Linked DNA regions of Homo sapiens: region 2 is linked to region 1. A link means that fine-mapping ties the variant in region 1 to the expression of a gene that starts in the linked region. Tissue or cell type: whole blood. Region 1 holds a variant in brackets; the other region holds the start of a gene. Each region is shown on its reference strand, or each on the opposite one.

Region 1 (2,907 bases):
CGTAATAAGAGTGATGATATTAGGTTCTGCCTGTTGAATAGAGAGAAGGGGATGGTTGCAAAAGTTTAAGTAATTGCAACCTCAGTCAAAACAGATTCAGGAACTAACTGTGGGAGAGGCAGTGAGCATGTGGGTATGGGTGATCCCTTAACTGAATTGTAAGAAAGTAGTGGGAGAGATCCAGGGTGAGGAGGTTACAGTGCCATGCCAGGAAAGGAGACCTGCTGATTGGGCCACTCGGTAGTTAGGTGAGTAAGCCAGGTCAAGGGCTTACAATTTTTCAGAATAGAGAGGATCAATTTTGTAAGGGCATCTTGAAGTGATCACATTCTCAGAAACAAGCCCATGGTAGTCAAACTCACATGATGCCAAATTATAATCCAAAAATAATCCTTTTGTGAATTTACCATAAGAATCATTTCTTTCTATTGATATTGACATATGTGACCCAGGGTACCACTTCCAAATCAGTAACTATTAGGATATGATTGGAGCACAGGATGGTGAAAACTCCCAGAACACTTCTAGGTACTATTCAGGTCTCTTTAATGCCAGTGTGGGCCCAGTCCCAAATTTGACAAGCATCACTCATGGCTTTCTTCTCCTCCCTTTTCTAATTCAGATTCTTTCTACCACCACCCTCTCCTCAGGTCTGTCTCTATCATTGATGGCACTACTCTTTCTTCATTTGATTTATGTGTGGTCTTATTCTCTCTTGCTTTGATTTAGGAGATACTGCTTTTCTAAAGACCACCACAGAATGCCACTTTCTGCATTGCTTGAAAATTCTGGTAACTGAACTTAGAAGCTCATCTTAGGTGTAAGAACAAACTCTTTTAACTTCTCTCTGTGGGCCAAACAGGCAAAATGAGACAGCCTGTGTCCTTCCAACATTTTAGATCCTTAGTCATTCTGATGAATGAGTGGATGGAGAGATGGACGAAGAGCTCACAAACTCAGAAACAACCAGAGGTGTAACATCTACTAGTCTTTTTGTCTTTCATGAAATCTCACCTTCTCATTATTTTCCTTATCTGTTTGATTATCACAATTGAGCACTTATTCCTAAGCACTATTGCTTATTATGCCTCTTAGGGTTTCTACTCCAGAGACACACAGCCTCTTCCTGACCTGGGAATGTACCACCACTTGGTGCTGAATTGTGACCCCAAAGTGCTCAAGGACCCTCCCCAGGAAGGCAGAACACATGCTTAAACCTGGGACTCTTGAGAAAATGCACATTCTGATTCTGTACATCTGAAGTGGGGCACGAGGATCTGATTTCTACCAAGTTTCCAGGTGGCACAGGTGCCACTTGTTCCTGGACCTTGAGTAACAAGGCCCAAGTGGTAAAATCAAGGGCTTGGAGCTTAACTCTCCTGAGTTGGAATCCCATTTTCCTCCATTATCAGCTTCATGACCTTAGACAAATTCTTCAACTTCTCTGAGCCTCAGTTTTGTTTCTGAGCATGGGGTTGCCACTTGGTTGCCAGGTTCTTGTGAGGATGGAGGTCACGTATGTTCAGTGCCTCTGCCAGTGTGTGCCACCTACAGCCCTCACAAGGCCCTTCCCTTCAAGCCCCATCTGAGTCCCTCCTCCACCCAACGTCTGGCTTCTCTATCTGGAGGATCCTGGAAGGACAAGATACAGCTGTTCCCAGGGCCTTT[T/A]CTAAGGCATGCAGTCTGCTCTGGGGCCAAGTAGCCCTGTGGTGTGGTTGCAGCCCCTGTTTCCACCAGGAGTCACCCTTCCTCTGGACTGCAGCTCCCAACCCCTGGGATCTTCCTGAGCTTTGGAGTTATGGGCATATCTGGCTTAGACTCTCATCTTCTACTGGCACTGTGGAAAGGTGCTCATTTTTTTTTTTTTTGAGACGAAGTTTCGCTCTTGTTGCCCAGGCTGGAGTGCAATGGCACGATCTCAGCTCACCTCAACCTCTACCTCCTGGGTTCAAGCGATTATCCTGTCTCAACCTCCTGAATAGCTGGAATTACAGGCATGCACCACCACGCCCTGCTAATTTGGTATTTTTAGTAGAGATGGGGTTTCTCCATGTTGGTCAGGCTGCTCTCGAACTCCTGACCTCAGGTGATCCACCTGCCTCGGCCTCTCAAAGTGCTGGGATTACAGGCGCTAGCCACTGCACCTGGCAGGTGCTCACCTTTATGTCATCAGCCAGGGAGAGCAGGTAAGTCAGTACCTTTCCCCCACCTCAGCACGGCTGCTAGCTGGAGAGGATGAAGAAGCCTTACTTCTAAATAAAATGAGGTTTATATTTGTTTGGGGAGCACGTTTCTCTCTTGTGGTGATCTGTCCCTCAGAAATTGGTTACTGGCCTGCATTTTCCCAAAGGCCTGGTAGCCTGATTTCAACCTGAGAAGTGGTTCCTCTTTGGCATTTAAAGACCACTTCAGTTTCCGTTGCCATGTGAGATGTGCAATCCCAGATTGCTGAGCAGGGCTTTGGCCACAGGCTTCCTGCCTGCAAAGGAGAGCCTGGCTTTTTACTTGAAAGACAGCAGGAGGCTCTTGTGTAGAGAGCAAGGGGAAATCATTAAGTTGTCCATGATTACCAAAGGATATGTAAGAAATATGTTCTCTAAAGTGGAAATTGCTACCCTTGGGTAACAGGAAAAGGCTGACCATTACATTATAAGTAGGAAATGGGAGATAATGAAATCGATGCCAAGCACACAGTGCAACCTCGATAAGGGAGTTTGCATCACAGCCCTCCCAATTCATTTTCACAGATGGTTCTTCTCTCGGGCATTTAAACTTTGTCTCTAATATTAATCAGTGAAATGAAAAAAGAGATTTGCCCAGTTGTGGTTATTGTTATTGGAGACTAATACCAATAAACTGGTAGTAAAATATCCCCACAATATCCTCTAACATTGGAAACAACCTCAA
Region 2 (2,907 bases), not on the chromosome of region 1:
TTGCCAGGGGTACCCAGGCCACAAATGGGGAAATGGAGACAACTCTGAAAGTAGGAGGGGGTGCTGTGCAGGTCAGCCCACTTCCCACCCTACCCCGCCCTCCACATGAGCCCTTTCATCTGAATCACAAGGAGCAATCGTTCCTCCTTCCCTTATTAAGTCTGCCTGTGGAGTCAACCTATCCAGCCTGGACCAGACATTTTATAGGCCAGGAAGTAGGAGTCCTTGGCCTGTCCTACCTCCCCCAGAGAAGGGAGAGGAAGTGTGTCACTGCACCTTTCCCTAAATCCTTTCTGCAAGATGACACTCAAAACTGCGGCACAAAGTGATTGCCTGGCTTTTAGGGGCTTTAGTCTAGCACTTGGCCTCAGGATGAGAAAGGAAGTGTTGTCCTGGAGGGAGAAGGAGTGGCTGTTACCGTCTGGCTCAAATGGAATACTTGCATGTCCATAGCCCATCTAGTCCAGGACTCTGGTCCTCACAGCATGCAGATCAAGCACACCTTCCACTGTCTGGTTCTTATCCCAGTGCCAAGATGAGAGTTAGAATTCCCCACACTTTTCCAAAGACACAGGGTTGGATTTCAGGCTCTTACCCTGGACCCCACCTCTGGACAGATAGTAATCCCTGTGTGGGGTGAGCCACCTAGGTCCGTAGCCCTGCCCCCTGGCCCTTCACTTTCCCCACTCTTCTGCCCTCCATGAATAAAGCTGGGCTATATTCGCTCCTGGGTCCCAGCTTTTTTGTTTTTTGAGACAGGGTTTTGCTCTGTCACCCAAGCTGGAGTGTGTGGTGCGACCTCAGCTCACTGCAACCTCTGCCTCCTGGGCTCAAGTGATCCTCCCACCTCAGCCTCCTAAGAAGCTGGGACTAAAGATGTGCCCCACCATGCCTGGCTCATTTTTGTATTTTTTTGTAGAGATGGGGTTTCACCATGTTGCCCAGTTTGGTCTCAAACTGCTGGCCTCAAGTGATCCATCCGCCTTGGCCTCCCACAGTGCTATGACTACAGGCATGAGACACCACGTCCAGCTAATTTTTGTAATTTTTGGTAGATATAAAAAATATGGAGTTTCATCATATTACCCAGGCTGGTCTCAAATTCCTGGGCTCCAGTGACTCACCCACCTTGGCCTCCCAAAGTGCTAGGATTACAGGCAAGAACCACCATGCCCGGCGGGGTCCCAGCTTTATCATGCACAGAAAAGTCAACAGCCAAAGCCTGGTCCAGACTCTTTGCCTGATCCTTCCAGCCCACTCTAGTGGCCCAGCCCTTCTGGCCTTGGGCTCATTCCACCAGATCCCCTCATTCTCCTTGGTTTCCTAATTTGCCTAGCTCAGCACACTCCTGTATGACCTACAGGTGGAAGGGTGGGGATGTCAGTCTGGGAGGGAGCCCAGGGGATTGGGTGTCAGAGTTAGGACACCAGGTGCCAAGTGCCTAGCCAGCCAGGACTGGCTATAATTAGCCCCATGGGGCCACTGGCTGACTGGGATGCCATGTGGGCAAGTTCCCTCTGCCACGCAGCCCCAAGCACAGCGGGCGCTTAAGTGAGAGGGCAAGCGGAACGCTGGTGTCTCCTGAGGGTGACTAAAAGGATGGGGGCAATAGGGGAGGGGTGTGGTCCCGGTTACCGGATCTTTACAGGGCTTCTTGCATGTTTCACTGCACCGCGTGCACCCTATAGCTGTCCTGTATATCCCAGATACTCCAGTGCTGGGATGTGGCTGAGGGTAGGAGGAGGGTGTTGGAGCAGGGGAGAGACTGACATTTCAACTGGCTGGAGACATGGTTGCTCTGGCCTCTTTGGGCCCAGCTCTGACGCCAGGCTGTCTTGCCTCTGCTCACCTGCAGCTATCCAGCAAACCTCGGCATGAGCGTCTCGGACACCCCACATTATCCCCCTGAGCTGGAGAGTGTCTCTCATCCCGTCCAGAGGGACTGCCTTGGACTCCTTGTGCACGCCCAGAGAACCCCTTCCTGGCCTCCCTCCCCCGACGAGGATCCCAGATTGCCTTCCTTTCCTCTGGAGGAGCCTGGTTCCAGGCCCCTGGTCCCAAGGAACCTTCCCTTTCCAGCCTTGTCCCTAGAGGAAGAAGAGGAAGAGGAAGAAGATGAAGATGCGGCAGAGCCCGAGTGGCTGCGCAGCGAGGAGCATCCGAGCCAGTTTTTCGCCGAGGCCCAGCGGCTGCGGGAGCAGAGACTGTTGCTGGACGAAGAGGTGTCAGTCGCGGGGCGGGTATACGGGGTGCATCGGGTGATCCTGGCCGCAATCAGCAGCCTCTTCCGAGACAGGCTGCTGGGCGGCGGAGGTCCGCGGCCCCCCTTCAGCCTCGAGGTGTCCCCAGGGGGCTGGGAGGCCGTGCTGACCTTTGCCTATGAGGGGGTGCTGGGCCCCGCCTCGCAGGGGGATGTGCTGGCCGCAGCAGAGGCGCTGGGAGCGCCCCGGGTGAAGGCTGCTGCCCAGCAGACATGCGAGAGGGCTGGAAATGCCAGGGAAGATGTAAAGAAGCCCAGCCAGGCAGAGGAGCTGAGGGAGAACCTGCGCGGAATCGAGCTCCTCTACCGAGAGGGCGTCGGGTGTGACTTGAAGCTGGAGGCAGGCGGCTGCCAGCTGTCGGGTGAGGGCCTGTGGGGCATTAAATTACTGCAGGTGCATATGCTAACGGAATGGTGTGTGCAAGCAGCAGGTGGTTTTATCCCCACCATGATGGTTTTGATCCCTGCTGCTGTCAGAATTTCCCTGGGGTGGCCTTTGGTGCCTCTCCTGCCCCACGGAGAGCCGGGCATGCGCAGTCGAGTTGTTTTCTAGGCGCTCTGACAGATTTAAACTGACCCTCTGTCTGGCTTTTCCTGTGTCCAGTAACAAGGAATCTCCAGCCAGCTGGCTAGAGCTAAGGGTACAA

What was found. PIP is the estimated chance that this variant, and not a neighbour inherited with it, causes the effect. A credible set is the group of variants that fine-mapping cannot tell apart.
Region 2: KLHL33 starts here. The variant in region 1 is the best candidate, but not a certain one, in a credible set for the expression of KLHL33 in whole blood (TOPMed, PIP 0.81).

What each region holds. Positions count from the first base shown.
Region 1 is chr7:50,217,645-50,220,551 of GRCh38, reverse strand. No RefSeq gene overlaps it. Among named protein-coding and RNA genes, the nearest start is that of IKZF1, 86 kb to the left of the region's middle. The variant T/A (reference allele first, on the strand shown) is at 1,669.
Region 2 is chr14:20,434,779-20,437,685 of GRCh38, reverse strand. It overlaps KLHL33 (kelch like family member 33), which reads left to right and starts at 1,520. Exons shown (of 5, transcript NM_001365790.2): 1 at 1,520-1,587; 2 at 1,856-2,622. The coding sequence starts at 1,875. RefSeq lists an enhancer at 1,064-1,973.